Linked DNA regions of Homo sapiens. The protein of the gene in region 3 interacts with the protein of the main gene of each other region in a pairwise test. Each region holds a gene or a part of one and is shown on either strand. Other genes may lie near its edges.

Region 1 (4,248 bases), on a different chromosome or scaffold from region 3:
CACAGATTGTGTCTAGAAGAAATCTTCCCAAAAGAAAGCCAGGCGTGGTGGCTCACGCCTGTAATCCCAGCACTTTGGGAGGGTGAGGTGGGTGGATCACTTGAGGTCAGGAGTTCAAGACCAGCCTGACCAATATGGTGAAACCCTGCCTCTACCAAAAATACAAAAATTAGCCAGGCATGGTGGCACATGCCTGTAATCCCAGCTACTTGGGAGGCTGAAGCAGGAGAATTGCATGAACCCAGGAGATGGAGGTTGCAGTGAGCCAAGATCATGCCACTGCACTCCAACCTGGGTGACAAAGCAAGACTCCATCTCAAAAAAAAAAAGAAATCTTCCCAAAAGAAACCCATAAAATCATAATTAACTGCAGAGCTAGAGAGGATTTCAAAAACAATTTAAAATAATTTAATCCACCTTTCCTACTTTTAAAGAGGAGTACATGGATTTCTGCATGTTTATCAACTTGCACAAACACACATAAGTAGATCTAGTGCAAAGGCAGTGGAAGAACCAAAGACCAGTTCCCCAGGTGGGTGGAGGGGCACTCTCCTCCTGTGCCAGCCACCTCCTCCCAGATTCCTGGACTATGGGCTTCTTCCTCCTGGATGTACACTGGGATTTAAAAAGAGGTCATGTGAATGACTAAGGCCATGATACGTTATCAGAGAGCAAAAACTGAAAATGTAATCAATGAACAACAGTCTGTTAACTTGAAAACTGAAACACAGATTCATGGCAAGATGGTCACAAATGCCATTCATTTTGCATAGTGAAGCACACAAAAGGTAAAGCTGGAAGAATGTGTCAGCAGTTCCTTAAACACTACCACAGGAGTATGAGTTCTCCCGGAGTGGTAGGCATTAACTTCTGATTGCTGTGACACATACACCCTACTTGACATTATCTCCCTCTGTAGTGGAACACAATCTTATAATACATATCCTCTTACACAGGTCTTCTTAGCTTGACCCCCCCGGAGGGTGTGAGAGATGACCAAGGTATTTGTTCTTACACATTTTATCCTCAAAAGGGATCTAGGATCAGAATCCCAGCTACTCCAGAAGCTAAGGCAGGAGAACTGCCTGAGACCAGAAGGTTGCTGAGCCGTGATCGTGCCACTGCACTACTGCCTGAGCAGCAGAGAGAGCCTGCCCCCCAAAAAAAAAACCACCATTGCACTCCAGCCTGGGCAAAAAGAGCGAAACAAAAACAACCCACAGCCCTCAGCGTAGCCAACTACCTCCAAACAAACTTCTAATTTCAACTTGCATTTTCAGGTTCCTAGAAGGGAGCTCAGCCACCAGCAGAAACAATCAAGTAGCTGCTGTGTCTTACTATAAATCTGGGGAGGCCAGGGAGTGATGGCCAAAGTGGGCAGAACCTTTGAGCTCAGGAGTTCGAGAACAAAGAAACATAGCAAACCCCATCTCTACAAAAAATACAAAAAACTAGCCAGGCCTGGTGTGGGATGCCTGCAGTCCCAGCTACTGGGGAGGCTGAGATGGGAGGATCAAGTGAGCCCTGGAATTTACACCACTGCACTCCAGCCTGGACAACAGGGTGAGACCCTGTCTCAAATCAATCAATCAACCAATCAGGGGTCAACAGCCTGTTTCTGTATGGTTTTTGAGCTAAGAGTGATTTTCACATATTGAAATGGTTGAGGGTAGAGGGCCAAAGAACATTTCATGACATACAAAATTCATAAAAATTTTACATTTCTATATCCATAAATATCACTTTCACATTCATTTTGCCCATGGTTGCTCTGGCACAACTGCAGACTTGAGCAGTTGCGACAGACCATATGACCCACAAAACCTAAAATATTGACTACCTGGCTCTTTACAGAGAAAGGCAACTGATCTGTCCTATAAATCAACCGATCAGTAGTATGATGTTTATAAACCACCATTATGCGTGTTTAGTTCAATGTGAATCAATTACCAGGTGCTGGACAAGCAACCGAAAGCTTACAAAATTAAGGATCAGACACAATCACTCCTTAGGAAGTCCCTAACTATGGCCGGCCATGGTGGCTCACGTTTCTAATCCCACCACTTGGGGAGGCTGAGGCGGGTGCATCACCTGAGGTCAAGAGTTCGAGACCAGCCTGGCCAACATGGTGAAACCTCGTCTCTACTAAAAATACAAAAATTAGCAGGGCATGGTGGCACACGCCTGTAATCCCAGCTACTCGGGAGGCTGAGGCAGGAGAATTGCTTGAACCCAGGAGACAGACGTTGCAGTGAGCCCAGATCATGCCACTGCACTCCATCCTGCATAACAGAGCAAGACTCTATCTCAAAAAAAAAAAAGAAGTCCCTAACTAGAATAATCAAAAGGAAGGCATTGAGGAGACCTCTAAGCAACTTAAATAAAGGCCACAGTAAAACCAGTGGGTTTTTCTCAAAAGAAAACCCCTGAGGCTCCTACTTGGAGCCAGTGTACACAAGTTTTAAAAACTTCTAACAGGCTTCTTATTTGATTTTCAAGTTAATGACCAATAAGCAGAAAAATCACTGTTCTCAACAGGCATTTTAACTACAATACATGGTAACAGTGGCAGTAAAAGGATCACAGAGAAATCATAAAAAGAAGTCACCAGAATTTAAACACTTAAACTAGAATCCAAGGATGTGCTTAAGGAAACACCCATGTTTTCTGGGGGAGAGCTTCCATGGGTTTCAGTGTCAAGTGTCCCCAACTTAAAAAGTTACAACCACCAACACTCAGCCTCTATATGTTAAGTGCATCATGGCATTTCCACATGGAAGTAACTGATGCTCGTAAAGATTATGACAAAGAGTAATCAATAAAAAATTTAAATTGCATTTAGTGTACTTTGTGCTAAATTAAAGCAAGCCATGAAGTTCAACCTCAAGCAACTTGCTAATAACATTGCTATTTCTTGTTCCTTACCCTGGTTTAAGTGGGAAACAAACAAACAAAAAGATTATTTTATGCCTCAGTGTGGACCCACACCACTGAAATCTTCACTTAAAGTAAGTCCTTATAAACTCTCATGGAAGATGCCATGAATTCTCAAAATAATAAAATCTCCTGCACAGGAGACACTAAATGATCAATAGTTTAAAATATTACTTCCACCAGCCACACAGGTGCACACTTGTAATCGCAGTTAGGAAGCCAGGGCGGGAGGACTCAGCTCTGGAGTTCAAGACTAGCCTGGGCAACCTGAGCAACATAGTGAAACCTCATCTCTCTAACAAAAAATACAAAGAGACAGATGTCAATTGTGAGCGCTTTCAAAGTAATAGAAAACTGGCCAGTCATGGTGGTTCACACCTGTAATCTAGCACTTTGGGAGGCCGAGGTAGGTGGGTCACTTGAGGTCAGGAGTTTGAGACCAGCCTGGCCAACATGGTAAAACCCCGTCTCTACTAAAAATACAAAAATTAGACAGACACGGCGGCATGCGCCTGTGATCCCAGCTACTCCGGAGGCTGACTCACTTGAACCCACTGCAGTGAGCCGAGATCCCACCACTGCACTCCACCCTGGGTGACAGAGCAAGAACTTGTCTCAAAAAAAAAAAAAGAGAGAGAAAATGTAGTTTACTTCCCTCAACAAGTAAGCCCAAAAAAATCTAAGGTTTTAAAAATTAACTTTCTTCAACTGCTCTCTATCACATTATGTCCTACCTCTACCTGAAGAACTAAAGGCAAAAAGTAAATACTGAATTCGTTTTAGAGTAACCAAAATTTGGTCACTGAACATTTACTGTGTGCACATCGTACACTATGGGTCTAAGGGATTAAACGTAAAAATACATGGCCCCTTTCCTAGTGATAAAGGCTTTCCAGTCCAAGTCTGGTAATCTTTATGTTTGTGCTTTGAGGTGAGGAAAGGATCCTTAATAATCATTCAAGTCCTGGGCTAGGAAAGGCCCCATCATAGCCAAAGTTTTTAGCATCAATTTCTTCCATTCTATTCCATGACACCCAACCTTAAACTTACAAATTGTCACTTCTATGTGTAATTAAAAAGGCCCTCCAAGGTCATTTTCTTGCATTTATTAGGAGAGCAGAGTAACTTGCTTCATCAGGGCTATGAACTGCAAAAAAAGAAAAAATAAAAATAATGCATACACCCTCATGATCACAAACCAAAGTTTTCATATGAGAAATACACTAGGCAAAGGACAATAGACTCAATAGACTCAACTAAATCTCAACTTCTGAGATATTACATTCCACAAACATAAAAAGAATTGTCCAGATT
Region 2 (4,248 bases), on a different chromosome or scaffold from region 3:
TTGCAGTGAGCCGAGATTGCACCACTCTACTCCAGCCTGGGCTACAGAGTGAGACTCTGTCTCAAAAAAAAGAAAAAGAAAAGAAAATATTTATTATTTAGGGCTAGGCAAAGAATTCCTAGACTTCACACAATCTATAAAACTAAACATGAATACATTGGACTTCATAAGAATTAAAAATTTTGATCTGTGAAAGACCCTATTAAGAGGATTAAAAGATAAGCTACAGAGCGAGAGAATATATTTGCAAATCACATATATAGAAAGAACCTGTATTGAGAATAAATCAAGCATTCTCAAGACTCAACAGTAAAAATGTAAACAATCCAATTAGAAAATGGACAAAAGACATGAAGAAACATTTCACCAAAGAGGATACACAGATGGCAAATAAACACATGAAAAGATATTCAACATCATTAGTCACTAAGGAAATGCAAATTAAACCCACAGTAAGATTAATTACACACCTATCAAAGTGGCTAAAATAAAAAACAGTGACAACAGCAAATGCTGGCAGGGATGTGGAGAAACTAGATCACTAATATATTGCTGGTGGGGATGTGAAATGGTAGCACAACTCTGAAAGATAGTTTGGGAATTTCTTTTCATTTAGAAAAATAAATCCTTATGATAAAGATCTAAATATTAAGAAAAGATTATTCAAAGTAGTAGAAAACTGTAGAAGAATAACTTCAGGGATAGGAAGACTTTTCACAACAGGGCACAAAATGTAATCATGACAGGGCACAAAATGTAAAGTCACAAGCAAAAGACAGACACATTTGACTACATCAAAATAAAAGCTTCTGTATACTCAAAGCAAAACTAAACAAAGCAAACAACAGCAAAAACAACAAAGGGACAAGGCACTCCAAAAACAAAGTTTAAAGATAAATGACAAACTAGGAAAAAAATTATTAATATCCTCATATGGAAAGAGCTCCTATAAAACAATAAGACAAAGCAAACTACTCCCAAAAAACACAAATAAATGACATAAACAGACAATTCAGACATAAGGAAATACAAATTAAAATATAGAAAAGAAAGTTCACCCTCACTAATAATCATGAAAATGCAAATTAAGACTGGATACCATTTTTTTCTCATGAGTGCTTGGCAGAAATGGAAGTCTACTGGCATGGGTGTGGGGAAGCAGGTGTTCATGCTTTAATAGTAATGTAGCCAGCACAGTGATAAAGGATACTCACTGTAGCAAATAACTGGAAAAAACCTTAACGTCCACCAATAGGGAAATGGTATAATAGAAAACTATGAAGCTGTTAAAACAGTGGGATAGATCTATATGCATGATATGGAAATAACTCGAAGAAACAGTGATACATTTTAAAAAGCAAACTGCCAAACAATATGCCTAGTATAATCTCGCATTTAAAAAACAGAAAAAAGGCTGGGTACAGTGGCTCATGCCTATAATCCCAGCACTTCAGAAGGCCGAGGCAGAAGGATTGCTTGAGCCCAGGAGTTGCAGGCCAGCCTGGGCAACAAAGTAAGACCTTGTCTCTACAAAAAATAAAAAAATTTGCCTGGCAGGGTCACATACACCTGTAGTTCCAGCTACATGGAAGGCTGAGGCAGGAGGATTGCTTGAGCCCAGGAGGTCAAGGCTGCACCGAGCCATGTTCATGCCATTGCACTACAGCCTGGGTGACAGAGCAAGACTTTGTCTCAAAAAAGAAAAAAAGAAAAAACAGAAAAAAATCCAAAACGCTGTTTATGTGTATATTTATGTACCTCAATAGATATGATAATAGTTATACCAAATTTTTTTAACAGTGGCTACATCTAGGAAGCGAACTGCGATGGTGTAGGTGATCACAAGAGACTATAGAATGACTTATACCATTAAATTTTTTTTTCTGTTTGATTATTTTACCAATTTTTTTCTGTTTGATTATTTTACTAAAAGACACATTTGCATCACTTGTTTAATAAAAAATAACGATGCAGCACTTAAGATAGTATCTAGCATATAGCAGTTGCTCAAAAATGCTAATTTCAACTTAAAAATAAATTAAGAAAATATTTTCAAAGAGTTAAAAAAATAAAGGATGATGTAGCCATAATGGTTCTATGGCCAAGGTTCTAAATGCTACATTATATAAGTGATAGAATTCTTCCCCAGGGAACAGAAAAAAGGGGCACGTTTAGGGGAAAAGGGAATTTACCAAACAACCAAAGAAAGATATCCAGGGTCTGTGTGTATTCACTGACCCAGAAACAAGCAGTAAATAAGTGTTTCTAGAAGTGCTTTACTAAAGGCACACTTAGCATATTAGAATGGTCAACTTACCTGTCGTCTTCACTACAGAGGTGGTGGAAACTCCATTGAGCTCACTAGAACTCCTTTTCACAGGCCTTGGCTTGTATTCTCGTCTGGGGACACTGGATGCAGCTGATATTCTGTAACACACATCGTAAGATGAGCCAGACATCTGATGTTGAAAGCTTTCCAAACACACATCCTCTCTGCCTTGTTGAGCACAGGAACTTAGGTTACAGCCAGTGGTCATGAAAGGGACGATTTTTACACACTGACTCTTGAGTAGCCCGAAGTGATGGAGGTGATATCACAAATGCAGTTTTTCAACTCCCTATTTGAGCTTGTGAGTGAAATTCATCTTGAAGAAGACTAATTGGGCCAGCCATGGTGGCTCATGCCTGTAATCCCAGCACTTTGGGAGGCCAAGGTGCTCACCTGAGGTCAGGAGTTCGAGATCAGCCTGGCCAACATGGTGAAACCCCATCTCTACGAAAAATACAAAAATTAGCCAGGCATGGTGGTGGGCGCCTGTAATCCCAGCTACTCGGGAGGCTTAGGCAGGAGAATCTCTTGAAACTGGAAGGTGGAGGCTGCAGTGAGCAGAGGTTACGGTGAGCCAAGATGGCGCCACTGCACTCCAGCCTGGGCAACAGAGCACGACTCCATCTCAAAACAAAACAAAACAAAACAAAAGACTAATTTTCTTCATCAAGTCTCTGAGGCATCCAGCAAGTGCCTGGGACGCGGTCGGCACCCAGTGATGGGAGCTGCCTTCTCCCTCACTCTACTCTTATAGATTATGATAGAATTATGAAAATACACTCCTGTCAGTAACAGGTAAACTATCTGCCTGCAGAAGTGGATGCTTCAGGGACTGAACACATCTTTGTCTTCCCTAGGTAACTACGTCATTGATTTAAGTAAAAATCCCTCCAAATTTATGCATTACCATAATCCTGTGTAAAACAATTTTCTGTTATCAAACCTAATTTAAAATATTTTAATAAACAGGGTTGCCATGCAGACTATATATAATATTACTAATTTTCAGAAAAGTATAGACTACATCTATGATTAAATTCACAAGGAATGCAGAAACCTTTCTTTGATTGTTCAGAAGATATTTTTGACTCTTTCAATACCTGTCAATATTATGAACACAGCCTGAAATTTGTCAATATTTTGACTCTTTCAATACTAGTCAATATTATGAACATATCCTGAAATTCGTACTGGTGAAGTGAAGGCACTACCTTTTTTTTTTTTTTTTTTTTTTACAGATATTTACATATTTTCCATACAGCATCTCACTTTTTTCCATAGCTCTGGATGTTTTCCATCCCTTTGTGAATGGGGAGTTAAACTCTCATCAAATCAGCAATGAAGCCAGGGTAGTTCTGTAGGGGTTGATGTCCCAGGTGGGAGAGCAACTTGGTTAGTTGCCCTAAACACGGGTCACAAAAAAAAGGGATTTAATGAAAAGAAAAAGGAGAAAAGCTGCCAGGTCCCTTTTCCCAGTTCTATCCTACTGGCCAAAGCCAGTACTTATTATCTCAGTCCCATCCCACATCCAACCATGAAAGCCAGTGAAAGAAAATTCAAAACAGAATGAGGCAGGGGAAGGGGGAGATGGAGAGATGGAGAGACAGACAGATGGATTTCAATAGATGTTACCTCCGCAGCCCTTGGCTTGTAAGAAACGTGGAGGTGCTTACCGCATCTGTAGCTTGCTCTGCAGCTCCTGCAGAATCTCTGTGGACTGTCTGTGATAGTCTAATGCTGCCTCTATGAACACAGCCAACTGGCTGACTTGTTCTACCTGCAGCAGAAGTGCAAAATTATTCCATGGAGGCCCGAGCCTGTGTAATGTCCAGAGAGAGAGGAGACCAGCAGCAAAGACCTAGCTTTGCAGGGAAGACCAGTGTCTGCCTTGGTCCATTTCATTTAATTTCATGTAGGAG
Region 3 (4,998 bases):
TTTCAGCCTGCCTGCACCCACCTTCACTGGCCCTCAGACCCTGAACTGGCCACAGACCCCTGTCTGCAGTTGCTGAGTGGTTTCTCCACAGCTTATTTCCTAGGGAATCCTGGCTACCTTTTCTTTAACAAGATGGCAGGAAGCAGGGCAAAGTCACTTTGGGTGCCAGTACCTGGGTCACAGACTCCCGCTGGCCCTAATGGCTAGGCTCCATTGCCACCAAGGAAGGAAGGGCCTGGGCATACACATCCCCAAATATCCCAGGAGGAAATGGATCCCGAGAATGACGGCCAGGTTGGGTTCACCTGCTTAGTTCCTAGGTTGGCAAGAGAAGGATGGTACCCAAGATAGGCCGGGGCAGGGAGAAGCAGGGATGGATGGGATCCCCACAGTGTGACATAGCATGGCTGTGAATGAGGTGGGTGGGCGAGGGTGAGCCCCAGAAGCCAGGACATCTGGACTCCAGCTAAGGGTGTGGAAACAGGCTATGAAGATCGCCAGGGAGAAGTGACTCATAGTTGTCCCCACCTGACTACTCCGTTGACTGCACTCCTGGTGCTGGGAAAGGCCTCCCTGCCATCCAGTCTTTCTCTCCTCTCTCCACTCTGCAGGAACAACTCCAGCCTCTACTTGAGGGGCAGCTCTTCTCCCCAAAAGAACCCACAGAGCCCCTGTGGGAAGCCGCTTTCCTCCCTTAAGCCCTGCGGGCCCTTCAGAACAGCTGTGTGGTGACCAGTCTCCAGGAGGCCAGTGTTGGCTGGCGCGAGTGCCCGCAGTTCTCCATCACCACCTGCCAGCCAATACGGGCTCCACACCACTGCCCCACAGACTGAGGAGGGATGCGCCACAGGTGTCCAAGCAGAAACCACCACGGCTTTTGGAATCTGGCTGGAGATGCTGACATTCCCAGGTCCTGTCCCGCCCCTGGCCTGAAAGACCATTCCCAGCATTCCCAGAGCCCTGCAGCTTCGCCCTCTCCACGCTGCTCCTCACCCGTGCAGCCCCACCTTCACCACGCTGCAACAGGGCCACAGCTGCCAAGGGGGCTATGGGAGAGCGAATGGGTGAGCAAGAAAGTTGGAGGAAGAGGAAGAAGGGGGAAGAGAAGGAGAGAAAAAGGGAGAAGGGAGAGGGAGGGGGAGCACAAGATTGCCTGTGCAAGTGAGACTGCATGAGTATCAGAGCAATCCAGACGGCGAGACACTGGATCACTAGTGAAAGAAAAAGGCAACCAAGAAAGCTGGGGGGAGAGCCACTGAAGATGAGGGAAAACCAAACAGGAAAGGGGTAAGAGAGGGCGAGCAGGAGAGCGAGAAGGGAGGTGAGGGACAAGAACGAAAGCAAGAGCCCACAGGAGCAAGAGGAGCCAGCGCAGGCGCAGCCTGCCACCTACTTCTTCTTGTCCTTGTCCTTCCTCAGGGGCTGCTGCGAGGTGGCGTGCAAGGCCTGCGACTGCAGGGCCTCCACCGCAGCCTTCCGGCGATTGAAGGCGTTGGTCTCCTCCTCCAGTTCCCGGCGCTTTTCCTCCACCTTGCGCTTCTCCTCCTGGTGGACCCGCTTCAGGTGCTCAAACTTCTCATGGAGCTGGCATCAGAAAGGGGGCAGAAGATGCGGGGAGCAAGAGGAGGGCTTGAGCCTGGGCCAGGAAGGCACCCCCACCTCTACCCTCAGCCAGGCCTTCCCTCCCTCAGCTTCCCCATCCCAGCCCCCAGCCTGGCACATACCTCCCTTTCCTTCTCCTTCAGCTCCAGCTCTGTCTCCTTCACTTTGTTGACAAACATCTGCCTCATCTCTTCCTCCTTCCTCTGCAGCTCACTTAGGAACTCCTTCCTCTTGGCCTCGTATGTCTCTTGTAGGCTGTGGAGACCCAGAGAAAAGAGGCCAAGGATGGGATTATGACGGAATGGGATAGGGCAGGGCAGAGCCAGAGAAGTAGAATCATGTGGGCACGAGGGGTAAGAGGATGTGGGGTCCCTCAGGGAACAGATGCCAGGGTGGTGTGTCTGGCCACAGCTGTGAAGACAGGCTCACTCTGGCTCAGGCTGTCACCTGAAGGGCTGGCTGTCACCATCGCTGTCCTGAAAGCCCATCTCCTCCAACTTGCAGCGCCGGTAGAGCTCGTAGTGCCGGCTGTGGGTCTGCTCGCGGAGGTCTTCCATGTTCACCCGGATCAACATCTCCCGCAGCTTCACGAAGTCGCAGTGATTCTCATTCTCCACTGAAAGCAGAGGGCCGGTGGGGTATCAGGCAGGCATGCAGGCGGGCACACTCCAGAGTCAGGGTAGGCACGCAGGTGGGCATGAGGAGGAAACAGCACAGGGTACTACAGGCAGCAGGGCAGGCCAGGGAACTCAGTTCTACCCCCAGGATGCATTTCCTGTCCACACTCACCCTGCACCACTCCCCAGGGGTACTGCCGTGCTCGGACCAGCTTGTTCCCCACCTTCACCTCCTCGGTGCTGCCCACCACGGCAAAGGGCAGATGTGCCTGGAAAGGGGCCCGGGTATGCGTAAGCCCTGAGCTGACACAGACTAATGGCAGACTCTCCCTCCCTGCCCCTGGGTCCTAGGGAGGGGCAGCCAGACCTGAACAAAGGCTCCAGGGCCAGATGCTTACTTCCTGGCTCTCTTCTGGAGAAATGTCCCAGAACTCCAAACAGGGGAGTGGGCTGAACCCTCAACCCCCTCCCTGGTGCTCCTGATTCTCCAGGCTGTTCTTTCAGCACTCGGGCCTCCCAGGGGCCATTAGAGCTTCCTGAAAGGACCTGTGAGCCTGGCTCCCTTCCAGGTTCCCAAACCCTTAAGCCTGCTCAACTGCTTCCATTTCCAGGCTCCTCCATGAGTCCAGATCTTATGACACCCAAACCTGGGGTCCCCAGTGTAGGCCCACTATCAGATTCTTCCTGTCCCCTGCCCACAGATGTAGGACTGGCCAGCTCCAGATGCCCACCCTTCTGTCCTGGAGAAGCTAAGGCTGGAATCCTGGGGAACAAGAGTCTCCTGGGGCTGTGTCAGATCTGTGCCGGCTCCTCGCCCTCTGGCCCCAGGGCCCTGAGGCCCTCACCCAACGCTCACATTCATGACTGCGTTAATCTCTGCAACAGCCTCATCATCCGTGGGGAACTGGTAGATCTGGACCCCGTTGCTGACCAACTCGCCCATGATCTTGATCTTGAACTTGTGGAGCTCGCTCTTGGAGATGGTGTCAGCCTTGGCGATGATGGGAATAATGTTCACCTGCCAGGATCAGGGGAGGGGACAGCAGGCTGGTTGGCTCTTTTGAGCGGTGGTTCCCATGCCATGCCCAGGATATGGATAGACATGCCCAGGCCATATCCCTGGGCAGGGGGAAGGAGGCCAGAGAGATGGAGCCACTCCCACGGGCAGCCATAGTGCAAACCCAGCCACCTGTGGCCATTCTGATGAGTTTCAACAATTGGCTGCAGTGCTTCTTACAGCCCTGGTTCCCCCAAATCACCATCCAGCCCCAAAACTGGTCCCCCTAGGCATACCCAGCTTTGACCCAGAATCCTTTGAAGGTCCTAATTGGCCTGGGGCCTAACAGAAGGAGTGGTGGGGGGGCTATGCTCCCCACTAAGCAGGTAAAAGGACCCATCAGCAGTAGCCATAAGAAGATCCCAAAATCTCCCAGGCCCAGGCTATCCCGTTTTTTACAATAAAAATGAACTCCTGAGATGGGAGGGCAGTCACGTGAGAGCTGACAAGGGATGTGGGGTCACATGCCCTTCAAGATGCACAGCACTTCCAGTCCTTCCCATGAAGCTGCCTCCCTTCTCTACCCCTACAGTACCCACCCCTCATTCACATCCCATTTCTGGGCCTTAACTCTCCTCTCCCTGATGGGCTCAGAAGGAACCAAAGGACATTTATGTCAGGGAGGAAGGGGGAAGTGAAAGGAGGAGCTAGAAATTAGGAATTGAGAGATAGAAAATGAGCAGAGAAGAGGCTGAGATGGGAAGGGAGGTTCCCTGGAGCGAAGGGGAACAAACACTATCGGGAGCGGGAGGGGCTGACAATGAGAATGATTCAGCTGCAAGCAAGGGGCTCAGGGTCAGACCCAGGGCACAGGACTCTGGAGAATGAGCCCAGAGCATTGGGGGCCACTGGAGCAGGAGGAACAGACGCAAGACAGAGAGAGGACCGAGCCAATGGGGGGCCACCCACAAGCCCCCGACCAGGTCCCTGAGGACCATGGTGTTCAGGCATGAGGCAGCCACCACATCGCATCGCAGCAGAAGACTATGGAGCCTGTGACAGCAGGTGGGGACAGGGATACCTTGCTGTCTAGTTTCTTCATGGTCACTAGATCTAGAGACTTCAGGGAGTGCCCTGTGGGCGTGATGAAGTAGAGGCAAACGTGGATCCTTGTGTCATGGTAGTCGAAGAGCGAGCGGCGGATCTTCAGCTCCTCCTGCAGATAATTTTCAAACTGCGCATCGATGTAGTCAACTATGGGCCTGTAACTACAGACAGCTCCATCACCCAGGAGGCTGCCAGCTGAGATCAGGGGCTTGGGGCTTGGGGGGCTCAGGGCTCGGGGCCAAGCCAGGCTGCCCCCTGGCCTTTTCTTTCTGGGAACAGCTTCTGCCTGAGATCCCTGACTGGATACAGGCAGCTGACCCCTTCTCCAGACACCTAAAGGAGTAACTGGTCTGTTGGTGACCACAGAGCCTCAGATATTCCCCAAGAGGCCCTCCCTGGCCCCCTGCAGTGTGAGGGCTGGGCTACTGTTATAGGGGCCAATGTAGGTGGGGTGGGAGGAGGCTGGGTGGGGCCGCCCTTCCCGCCTCTTGCCTCTCATCCTTATTGATCTGATCCCCAAAGCCCACGGCATCCACAATGGTCAGCTTGAGCTGCACGTTGCTCTCCTGGAGGTCATAGGTCTGGGGCCGCAGGCGCACGCATGCCTCATGGTGACTGGCTTCCTCAGTCTCGAAGGTCGTGTTGAAGAGTGTGTTCATCAGTGTGGATTTGCCA

What was found.
Region 1: the proteins of SEPTIN8 (region 3) and JADE1 interact in a two-hybrid assay, tested with the Homo sapiens proteins (one large-scale study listed by BioGRID and IntAct).
Region 2: the proteins of SEPTIN8 (region 3) and SH3GL3 interact in a two-hybrid assay, tested with the Homo sapiens proteins (one large-scale study listed by BioGRID and IntAct).

The regions. Positions count from the first base shown.
Region 1 is NC_000004.12:128,816,200-128,820,447, reverse strand, and holds part of JADE1 (protein Jade-1), read right to left. Parts: intron 4,001-4,248; exon of another isoform or gene 3,985-4,000; intron 1-3,984.
Region 2 is NC_000015.10:83,586,841-83,591,088, reverse strand, and holds part of SH3GL3 (endophilin-A3), read right to left. Parts: exon of another isoform or gene 4,114-4,248; intron 4,107-4,113; coding exon 4,003-4,106; intron 3,732-4,002; exon of another isoform or gene 3,576-3,731; intron 2,428-3,575; coding exon 2,318-2,427; intron 1-2,317. UniProt on the Homo sapiens protein: Implicated in endocytosis. May recruit other proteins to membranes with high curvature.
Region 3 is NC_000005.10:132,759,409-132,764,406, forward strand, and holds part of SEPTIN8 (septin-8), read right to left. Parts: coding exon 4,816-4,998; intron 4,485-4,815; coding exon 4,298-4,484; intron 3,238-4,297; coding exon 3,076-3,237; intron 2,489-3,075; coding exon 2,392-2,488; intron 2,219-2,391; coding exon 2,050-2,218; intron 1,858-2,049; coding exon 1,725-1,857; intron 1,585-1,724; coding exon 1,394-1,584; exon of another isoform or gene 529-1,393; intron 317-528; exon of another isoform or gene 1-316. UniProt on the Homo sapiens protein: Filament-forming cytoskeletal GTPase. May play a role in platelet secretion. Seems to participate in the process of SNARE complex formation in synaptic vesicles.